Linked DNA regions of Homo sapiens. The protein of the gene in region 2 purifies or fractionates together with the protein of the main gene of each other region. This does not show direct contact. Each region holds a gene or a part of one and is shown on either strand. Other genes may lie near its edges. The genes, in order: EIF2B3, SYT2 and RAD18.

Region 1 (3,651 bases), about 160 Mb from region 2:
ACTGTGCCCGGCCTCAATCCCAATTTTCAACAATTTCTTTTATATTATTCTGCGCTCCACTGCCACCCTGGTCTACACCTGCAATTATATTTTCACAGGGTTCTACCAGGAGCAATGTCAATAACTAATCTTTTCATTATCTCACCTCTGTTATCCTTGAATGCCACCCCAATGTAGTTCCCTCAATTATTTATCTTTTCCTATCCTCTTTTTTTTTTTTTAATACAGAGTCTCACTCTGTTGCTTAGGCTTAGGCTGGAGTGCGGTGGTGCAATCTCAGCTCACTGCAACCTCTGCATTCCAGGCTCAGGTGATCCTCCCACCTCAGCCTTCCAAGTAACTGGGACTACAGCCACATGCCACCATACCTGGCTAATTTTTGTAGTATTTTTGTAGAGACAGGATTTTGCCATGTTGCCCAGGCTGGTCTCGAACTCCTGGACTCAAGCGATCCACCTGCCTCGGCCTCCCAAATTGCTAGGATTATAGGCGTAAGACACCGTGCCCGGACTCTTTTCTTATTCTCATCTAAACCCTTTACTGCTCTGCATTTCCTTTTCCTAGTCTTATTATTCCTCCCTCCCAAAACCTTCCTCCTGGGCCTACTATACAATACAGAGTTCCTTTATACCTTCAGCCTCTTTACTGTCCCCCTCTCCACCCCCTGCCTTCATTAAGGCCTGGCTTATCTTTGAGGACACTGCTTCTCCTTCAGTGGAAGCTATTTGTTCCCCATATCTCACAAACTTCAAGGTTAAAAGGAGGGGCTAGCAAGAGACTCCTCATTAATGCTGTTTGCAGACAATTCTCTCTCAAAGTCATTCCTTTCCTGAGGCTTTGCCATCTGGCCACTCTATACTCTGCTCCTTCACCTTCTCAGGGAAGCCTCCTCTGTATGCCTATGTTTACTTCATCAGAGTAATGATTACAGAGTATTTACCTGCTTATTATGAAGTAAGTACTGCAGATATCCCCATGCTGAACAGAACAGGAGGAACCTGCTGACCCAAAGGCCAGAAGTTAGCCTTCCTGAAGATCTTAGCCTTTCCCTGGAGCCATAGAGGCCCTGACTATGGACCAGGCCCCCTGCTTCCCTTTTTGCTGCACCTGAGTACCCTAGTAGTCTCCCTTGACGTGCCAGGTCTTGCTCAACCTTGGGAATGACAGGGATTCTTAACAAGTTACTATGTACCTAATGAAGAAACAGACAAGTGGCTCAGTCTGTTTCTAGGACAAGAGCCCCATGATTTTCTAACTCATGCTCTCACCTGTCTGTTTGCTTCCATGTAGAGTCCCAGTGTGCTCACTCGAGAGCAGAGCCCCTCTTTCATGATGTGGACATAGCAGCGCACCTGTGATCTGGACAAGTCTTCCCACCTGTCTCCTCGACAGGCATTCCAGCAGGCATCATAGGGAGCCAGGTTCAGTGTATTGGCTTCTTTTATAAAACTGTAGATATCTTCAGAACAAACACCCAACCAAGGAAATAAATGAGAGAGAGATAACAGAACAGATACAGACTCAGTCAAGTTGTTTTTTTGTTTATTTAAGAGACGAGGTCTTGCTATGTTGCCTAGGCTGGTCTCAAACTCCCAGACTCAAGGGATCCTCCCACCTCAGCTTCCTGAGCAGCTGGGACTACAGGTGTGCACCACCATGCTTGGCTCTAAGTTTTAAAAGAGATTACAGCTCACACTTCTTCCTTTGAAACTCACCCACAAAACATGAACCCTGAGGAAATCCCACTAAAATCTGTAAGAGAAAGTCAAACTAAAAGAGGAAATGTACTTCCCTAAAATATCATATGATATAAAAATGCTTAATACGAGGTCCTAAAAGCATGTGACCGGTAATCAAGACCACTAGGGAAAATAAAACAGATGACCCTTGTAAATCATGAAATAACACAAGCCAGCATCCAGGCTTTAGTGGCCAGCCAGGTTGACTTTGTGCTGCTAGTCTCTATTACCATATCTGGTAGCTGTGCTATGACAGAAAGTACAGAACTTGGAGCCCAGAGTACCAGGGCTCTAGTTTTTCAGCTCTTACAACGATCCTTTGAGATCTTTTACTTTCTCATAAAAAAACTGGGGCTCAGAGGACTGAGTAACCTGCCTCAAGACACAATGCTGGCCGGGCACGGTGGCTCATGCCTGTAATCCCAGCACTTTGGGAGGCCGAGGCGGGTGGATCATGAGGTCAGGAGATCGATACCATCCTGGCTAACACAGAGAAACCCCGTCTCTACTAAAAATACAAAAATTAGCCGGGCGTGGTGGCGTGTGCCTGTAGTCCTAGCTGCTGGGGAGGCTGAGGCAGGAGAATGGCGTGAACCCGGGAGGCGGAGCTTGCAGTGAGCCGAGATTGCGCCACTGCCCTCCAGCCTGGGCGACAGAGGGAGACTCCGTCTCAAAAAAATAAAAAAAAAAAAAGACACAATGCTAGTAAGAGGCAGTCAGATTTCAAATCCAGAACTGTCTGATGCCCAGTTCTACAGTCCTAATCATCATGCTGTACTGTCAGTGTATTCATTTGATAAATACTTTTTCAGAATATCTACTATGAGTCCACGACTGGGCCGGGGATTAGGGATATGACAGCAAACAAGACAGATCCGATCTTCAGATCCTGGCACGGAGACACCTGGGTTGGCCTGTGGTTGGACTGCAATTGTACATTCCTTCACTTTCCTTCCCTTGATAAAAGAGGTTGAGTTTAATCAGGAACGGGGCTGCCTAGAGCCTAGAGAACAGGGGAACTAAGAAGTGGCAGGTGGAGTTTAAAGGCAAAATGGTCTAGTGAGGAACACAGCCAAACCAGAGCTATGAATCAGAGAATGGGGCTGGAGGCATGATTAGCCTGTTGCCGAGAGCACAGTGGCAGAATCTGCCTGAGCAAGCTTACCCAGAGCTCAGTGGGTTGGCAAGCCTGTCTTGCCTCGTAGGCTAGAAATAGTCTGCTGCCTTGAGTCAGGCATCTTGGGCTGGGCTAAGCTGCCCAACCACTCTTTCCAAAGGTGCTGCTACCCTTGCCCCTCTTACTGAACCAACCCAAGAACTGACCTAAGGACTTCAGCTCCTTTTTCTTTAGATCCTCCTCTTTTTCTTCTTGTCCCTGTTGTGAGGAAGCTGAGGAAAACTGTTTTCTCACTAAATATGGAATCAGTTCACTCCGGATAGAAGTTATTGACCTAGAAAGAAAGAATGGCCAAATATGAGAAACCTGACTGTCTGGAACATACCCGGATCAAAAGCTCTGTGCATACAAGGAAAAGCCAAATCCTTTCCTGTCATGGCACCTTGGGACTGTCAGAGATCAAATGTGGCATTGACTTGGCAGTTCGGAGAAGCAGAGTGCTTCCTGGTGGGTACTGAGACAGGATGTTGGGTCTAAGTGATCAGGAATCTGTACTAGGGGAAGAAGGGACCTGATCTTTAGTTCAGTGTGTGTTTTTTATTTATGTTTTTATTTATACTTAGCAATGGAAAGCAGAGAGATGAGAAACTAGCACATGTTTTTCAGTGTTCTCTCACACTGTGACCTTATTAGAATTTTATATTGCTAATTAATTTATGTAGCATTTACCAAGCATATGCGAGTTACTGTGCTAGGCCTTGGAAATACATCATTTCTGACTTCAAGGAATTCATA
Region 2 (3,651 bases):
ACCTAGGACAGCAGTTCTCAAACCTTTTGGTTCTAAGACCCGTTTATTGAGGACCCTCCAAGAGCGTTTTCTTATGTAAGTTAGATCCATCCATAGTTACCATATTCAAAATTAAAACTGAGAAATTTCTAAATTAGCTCAAAATACAATAGTAACTCATTACCTGTTAATACAACATATTTAATAAGTAACTATATTTTCCAAGACCAAAAAAATATATAGTAGACGTTTTCTCTAGTAAAATATCTAGTAAGAAGGAGGCCTTGTTTCACATCATTGCAAATCTCTTTAATGTGTGGTTTACTAGAAGGTAGCTAGAGTTTTATATCAACTTCGGTGTTCGGTCTGTCTGCAATACATTACTTTGATTGAAAGATGAAAGAAAATCCAACCTCACTCAGATATGTAACTGGAAAGGGGAGGGGTATTTAATAAAGCCTTTTCAGATCATTGTGGATATTTTTCTTTGATATGACATCACTGCTCCCCAAGTGGTAGCTTCTTAAAGACTGGCTGCAGTGGGGAATCTGAAACCTTGCACTTGGAATGCTTGTTTGCCTCTGTGCATGATTTTGTGACATCATTCATTTATCATTTCGAAGATATTGGCTTGCCGAATTGTGAAGATCTTTCAAATATTGATGAATTTCATTAAACAATATTAACAAATCACATCTATTACTATTCCCACTGATCTTATCACAAAAGTCCTTTTCATAGTAATATGTGTGAGTTTTCCAAAATTCTAATTTTTGCTTGAAAGCTTAAATTTTATCATTGGCCACAAATACTGCCAGTTGTTTTTCTGGAAGTGACGAGCTCACTTCGTTCATTTTTGCAAAAATGCCTGCTCAACACCCAAGTCTGAATAACTGGAGTTTGTTGGTTGTTCTTTCAGATAAAATGGTATCCCATGGAAAAATGGCTAGTTCAGCCTGCAACTCAAACAGATGCACAGGTGATGGGCACTGTTCAGTTGCTTGAGAAATTATTGTGTAATATTTCTGTAAGAAGCAGAAGTGCTTTATGTGTACTTCTCATTCCATCACAGAGAATATTAAAAAGATGTGCACTCCAGAATCAAGCTTCAATATAATTATAATCTTTGCTGCTTCATGAAAAGAAGACATTCTTAACTGAAAATGGCATTTCATTATTTACCAATTACTTTGCTTAGCGGGTGTGTAGTGTGGAAGAACACAAAGACGGGTGCAGTGTGATACTATTACCTTGATTCATGGTAAGGTGCCAGCAGCTTCACCCACCACTGCTTTAGCACCATCAATGTCAAGCATGGGAATGGCAAATAACTTTATTGCCATCATGGAAACTGCTTTGACCTTATGGACCCCCCTGAAAATTCTTAGGGACTCCCAGGGACCCGTGGCCCCCATCTTGATTACTGCTATAAGGTAAACTTCACAAGGGCCTGTTCCCTGTGTGTTACTGTCTCCATTTTCAGATGAGGACCCCGAAGTTCAGAAAGTTTAAGTAACTTGCCCAGGGTCACACAGGCAGGAAGTGGCAGTCTTGGTTTGACCTAGGCCATCTGACTCCCAGCCACACACACGCTGCTTCAGTTATGCCCTACAGAACATGCTGTGGGGGCCTCTCCTCTGCCCCTTCCCCATTGCCTCACCTCCTGAGGTCTTTGGGGCTCACGATCTACTCCAGGGGAGGCACGAAGACACCTCCAGGTTTGCAGTGGTGAGGACCTGGGCTTCTATTACTGTCTGCCCCAGGGCACCCCTGCCACCCTCTACCAGTAGGAGACCTAATGGGGGTGGAGCACGCCTCCCTGGGAAGCCTCAGACGTCTGGGGCTGGCTTGCCAATGGCAGGCTCAGTTCTTGATGCTTCCCTGCCTCCTGCAGCTGCAGCAGCAGCAACCAGCACAGTTCCCAGCATCAAAGAGCTAATCCAATTTCTCAGCTGTGCTTCCCCCTTCGCCTCCTGCAATGCCAGGATTGATTTGGAAACAGGGCAGCCTTATTAAAGTGATGCCTTTTCCTACTCGTGGGAGAGTCAAACTGGGAGAGGGAGCCCTCCCACAGCCAATTAACTCCATGCTTCCCGCTAACACTGATCCTAGCCACAGCCACCCTTGAGTTTCCTGGGGTTTACCTGTAACTCTTCTTAGCTCCTAGTGGTGAGGATGGATTTCAGTCCTAGGTCTGCTTCCCTCCAAGACCCAAGAGCACTTAACCAATAGGTTCTTGTTCATCCTTCCTGCACTTCTAGAGGGTTGCCTGGGTGGTCCCCTCTCCTCCTGCTTGCAGGCCTCCACCCCGTCTCCTAACATCCCATCTTAGGCCCTATGACCGGGCCGTCACTTGGTCCATCTGAGTTGGTACAATGAAAGATACATGGCAGACAGCCCCAAGAGGGATAGAGGTAAAGACCTGTACATTTGTTAAATGGGCTTTTCTCCAAATAAACACAGGAGGCAGAAGACAAGGACAGTCCTCAGAGACCTCTACCACCCTCAGCCCAAGCCCCTCTCCAGGCCCCCCTCCTTGCGGCCTCACAGCTCTCCTCTAATCTAGGGAGTTAAGGTGTAGCAGAAGCAGAGAAGGCCCCGCTCCAGAAAATGCTTCCTTTCTACAAATAGCATAAAAACTGCTTCCCGAGTCACTTTGTAGAAGAGGAAGGACATGCACAACACATCTGGATCATTAGTTCAGACTGGAATCAATGGTGAGGAAAAGAGATTTCTCTCAAACCACCCAGCCCTTAGGGAGCAGAGGTTCTCTGGGAAGGTCTTTGGAGCTCAGAGCACTGGCTGACCTTGGGGAAGGCATTTCTGGTCTGGAAAGGAAAAAATGAGCACCACCTCTTTGACGCTACCACCCTCCCACCCCCGGCCACCGCTCCCCTCCCTCCGCCGCCCATACACATGGCCCTACCCAGCTCAGCCCTGCAATACCACAAATGCCTCATTTGACTTCAGAGGAAAATGGAGCTAAGAGTAGGAGTGAGGAAGGGAGTAAAAAGAAGGGCGGGGGAAGGAACAAGTGGGGAGGGAGAGATGAAGGTACAAGGTACCCTCTCCTGTCTCTCACATGCACACTACTGCAGGTGGTTACAACTCTTTTCTGTTTCTCCACAGCTGAGCAGGAAACTGGGAGAAGAGCCCTTCTCCCCTGCAGCCTCTCCCTCTTGGCCTCCATCACCACTCTCCTAACCCCTGCCAAGCCCTGCATCTGATCCTACCTGAGCTAAAGAAGCAGAAGGTCCGGAGGGAGCCTGTGATTTTTGCCTCGGTCACCTCTTACAAATGCGGTGGGCTGCTGGGCTCGCCCTAACCCTGCATCACCCCCAGGCTGCTCCTTCAGTCTACTCGGGTATGGAAAGGGTTAAGCTCCTCCCATCCCCTCCTTCCTTCATCCCATTTCTCCATTCACTTCTATTTTCCCATATGCCTAGTGCCAAGCTCACAGTTACAACCACTTACACCCTGTATTAAGATGCATGGAATAGTAATGGGTAAATTCCGTCTCTAATTGCAATATTTCCTAATTACTAAATTCCAGAGCCACTGTATCAACCCAATTATGGCAAGTCCTGCCAGAGTTCTCCATGGTCTGAGGACTCCCTGCCTTACTGAGAGGCACCTGACAAATGCCTCGGGGGAGCTTTCCTGACTCCCCAC
Region 3 (3,651 bases), on a different chromosome or scaffold from region 2:
CTAGGAAGCTGATACTGGTAAATTAAAATCCCAAACGTCAGTGCTGGAAAGTTAGTTGTTCGCATTGGAGCCCAGCCAAAGCTGAGAAATCTTGGTAAGATCATGGACATTCAAGTGACACCCCACAAAGACCACACCTTAGAAAAATGGACCACACTGAAGAAATATAAACAAAGCTCAAACAGACCTAACCTAAGAAAACATTATACCAGGCCTTGACAGAACAAAGATGAAGAGCTGATAATTTAACTGCCTCTTAGAACAAAATGTGACATCTTTCAAAAGAAGACAATTCACAGCTTCTACAACGTTTCAACCACAATGTTCAGCACATATTTTAAAATTATTGAACATGCAAAGAAGCAAGAAAAAGTAGCCACTAATCAAGAGATAAAATATTCAATAGAAGCAGACCCAGAGGTAATCCAAAGAATAGCATCTCTAGGTAAGGACTTCAAACTATGATAAACATGTTAAAGAAAAAAAAAGAAAAGGGATAAAAAGATAGTGTATTATGAGAAATAAAATCCATAAAAAAGAATAAAATGAACATTCTACAACTGCAAAATACCATATCTAAATTGGATGAGTATAACAACACACAATACAAACTTGAAGGCAGGTCAATAGAAAATATCCAAACCAAGCACAGAGAGAAAAATGAATGAAAAAGACAAACACAAAAAAGTATGAGATATTGGGCATAATTAAAAGCCCAGAAGGAACAGAAAGAAAGAATGGGAAATCAGCAATACTAGAAAAACCAATGGCTGAGAATTTTCAAATCTGATAGAAAAAAAAAATCAACCCATAGATTCCACCACTACCGAATTTACATGAAACGCAACAACAGAAAAATAACTAGAAAATCTCCAAATGTTAAGAAATAAAGCACCACACTTCTAAATAACCCCGCATGTCAAATCACAATGAAAACTAGAAAAATATTCTAAACTGAACGATAGCATGAAGGGTTGCCAAAACTGTCCCTGGAGGGAAAATTATTGAAAATAGAAAAAGTAAAAACCACCACTCTAAGCTTCCAACTTAAAAGGTTAGGAAATGAACAGCAAACTAAACCCAAAGAAGAGAGAAACTAATAACAGATACTAGTGAAATAGAAGAGATAACAAGAGAAAACAAGCAAAGCCAAACATTGGTTCTTTGAAAAAATTAACAAAACTGTTAATCCCTACTAAGACTGAACAAGAAATAAATGAGAGAAAATACAAATTACCAAAACAAAGAATTAAAAGAAGACCTCGTTACAAATCCTATAAAGAAGATAATTAGAGGATATTATGAACACTTTAAAACAACAAATTTTAAATTTTAGATAAAATGGACAAATTCTTTGAAAAGCACTATTCATCAAAACTGACAAAGAAACAGAAAACCTGAAGAGCCCTTATTATCTGTTAAAGAAACAGAAGCTATAATTTAAAACTTTTCCACAAAGAAAACTCCAAGCCCAGATGGCTTCACTGGTAAATTCTACCACATATTTAAGGAAGCTTTGTTTATTTCTTCAGTGTGGACATGGTGGCACATACCCATAGTCCTAGCTAATTGGGAGGCAGAGGCAGGAGGATCCCTTGAGCCCAAGAGTTCGAGGTTACAGTGAACCATGATCATGCCACTGCACTGCAGTCTGGGCAACAGAGCAAGAAGAAGAGAGGAAAGGGAGGAAGGGAAGGAAAGGGAGGGAGGAATAGACGGGGGAGGGAGGAATAGAGAGGGGAAGGAGAAAGGAGGAGGGAGGGAGAAAGGAAAGGAGGGAGGAAGAAAGGAAAGCAGAGAGGGAGGGAGGGAGGGAGGAAGGAAGGAAGGAAGGAAAAGTCTTGTCCATCTGTTAACTATACAATAACCTTACCTCTTCAGAATGGGGCTAAGAATCAAGAGTCAAAATAGGCCTTTGGGTAGACATGGGCAGCCATTAAATCTATGCAATCAATTCCATGGACTTCTGTAACTAAAGTCCTGCAATGCTTGTTCTGATCAGAAACATGTAAACAGCAGTCTAGAACCATTTGGCTAAACAATAAACTGTAGTCGGCCCTTCCCATCCACCAGCTCTGCATCTGTGGATTCAACTAATCACAGAGCAAAAATGTTCAAAAAATAATAAAAGTAACAATACAACAATGAAAAATAATATAAATTTTAAAAACACAGTATGACAACGATTTATATAGCATTGTATTAGGACTATAAGTAACCTAGAGGTGATTTAAAGTATAAGGGAGGATGTGCATATGCAAATACTATGCCATTTTATGTCAGGGACTTCAGCATCCACAGATTTTGGTATTCTCAGGGGTCCTGGGACCAATCCCCTTTACTGAGAGACAACTGTACTAAATTTGATCGTTTTTAGAATGCAAACCAATAAAGAAATGTGTAATTCTATTGAAAGAAATCTGTTTATATTTTTAAAAGCAACATAAGGTACCTCATAGAATGTTCCAACATGCTTTGTTCAACAAGAGACCAAATACACAGTGGTGGTTTCATTAGACGATAATGGAGCTGAAAAATTCCCATTGCTAAGTGACATCTTGATAATCCTAACCCTGTGTGGGCCTAGGCTAATGTGTGTGTTTCCATCTTCTTTTTTTTTTTTTTTTTTTTTTGAGACGGAGTCTTACTCTGTCGCCAGGCTGGAGTGCAGTGGCGTGATCTCGGCTCACTGCAACCTCCAACTCCCTGGTTCAAGCGATTCTCCTGCCTCAGCCTCCCAAGTAGCTGGGATTACAGGTGTGTGCCACCATGCCCAGCTAATTTTTGTATTTTTAGTAGAGACAGGGTTTCACCATGTTGGCCAGGATGGTCTCGATCTCCTGACCTCGTGATCCACCCACCTCGGCCTCCGAAAGTGCTGGGATTACAGGCGTCAGCCACCAAGCCCGGCCTCCATCTTCATTTTTAAGAAAAAGTTTAAAAAGGAAAAAATAATAACAATTTTTAAAAACAGAAAAAACCTCACAGAATAAGGATATAAAGAAAGATGCTTATACAGCTATACGATGTGTTTGTGTTTTAAGCTAAGTGTTATTACAAAAGAGTCAAAAAGTTAAAAAAATATAAAAGTTTACAAAGTGTAAAAGTTACAGTAAGGTTAATTATTGAAGAAACTTTTTTATAAATTTAGTGTGTAGTCTAAGTGTACAGTGTTTATAAAGTCTACAGTAGTGTATGGTAAGGGCCTTAGGCCTTCACATTCACTTATCACTCACTCATTGACTCATCAAGAGTAACTTTCAGTCCTGAAAGCTCCATTCATAGTAAATGCCCTATAAAGATGTACCATTTTTTATCTTTTATACCATATTTTCCCTGTACTTTTTCTATGTTTAGATACACTAATAGGTACCATTGTGTTGCAACTGCCTACCGTATTAGCTATAGTAACATGCTGTACAGGTTTTGTTACCAAGGAGCAATAGGCCCTGCCATATAGAATAGGAGTGTAGTAGGCTATACCATGTTGGTTTGTGTAAGTACACCGTATGATGTTCACACAGCAACCAAATTGCCTAATGACACATTTCTCAGAACACATCCCTGTTAAGCAACACATGATTACACTTAACTACAGGGGCACCTGACCACTATCTAAACCAGTACGTCCTTCATAAAAATTCTTGTTTG

What was found.
Region 1: the proteins of SYT2 (region 2) and EIF2B3 purify together in Homo sapiens (co-immunoprecipitation; 2 studies listed by BioGRID and IntAct, with this or other methods). This does not show direct contact.
Region 3: the proteins of SYT2 (region 2) and RAD18 purify together in Homo sapiens (co-immunoprecipitation; 2 studies listed by BioGRID and IntAct, with this or other methods). This does not show direct contact.

Annotation. Positions count from the first base shown.
Region 1 is NC_000001.11:44,878,550-44,882,200, forward strand, and holds part of EIF2B3 (translation initiation factor eIF2B subunit gamma), read right to left. Parts: intron 3,191-3,651; coding exon 3,063-3,190; intron 1,460-3,062; coding exon 1,269-1,459; intron 1-1,268. UniProt on the Homo sapiens protein: Acts as a component of the translation initiation factor 2B (eIF2B) complex, which catalyzes the exchange of GDP for GTP on the eukaryotic initiation factor 2 (eIF2) complex gamma subunit.
Region 2 is NC_000001.11:202,700,403-202,704,053, forward strand, and holds part of SYT2 (synaptotagmin-2), read right to left. Parts: intron 1-3,651. UniProt on the Homo sapiens protein: Exhibits calcium-dependent phospholipid and inositol polyphosphate binding properties. May have a regulatory role in the membrane interactions during trafficking of synaptic vesicles at the active zone of the synapse.
Region 3 is NC_000003.12:8,942,858-8,946,508, forward strand, and holds part of RAD18 (E3 ubiquitin-protein ligase RAD18), read right to left. Parts: intron 1-3,651. UniProt on the Homo sapiens protein: E3 ubiquitin-protein ligase involved in postreplication repair of UV-damaged DNA. Postreplication repair functions in gap-filling of a daughter strand on replication of damaged DNA.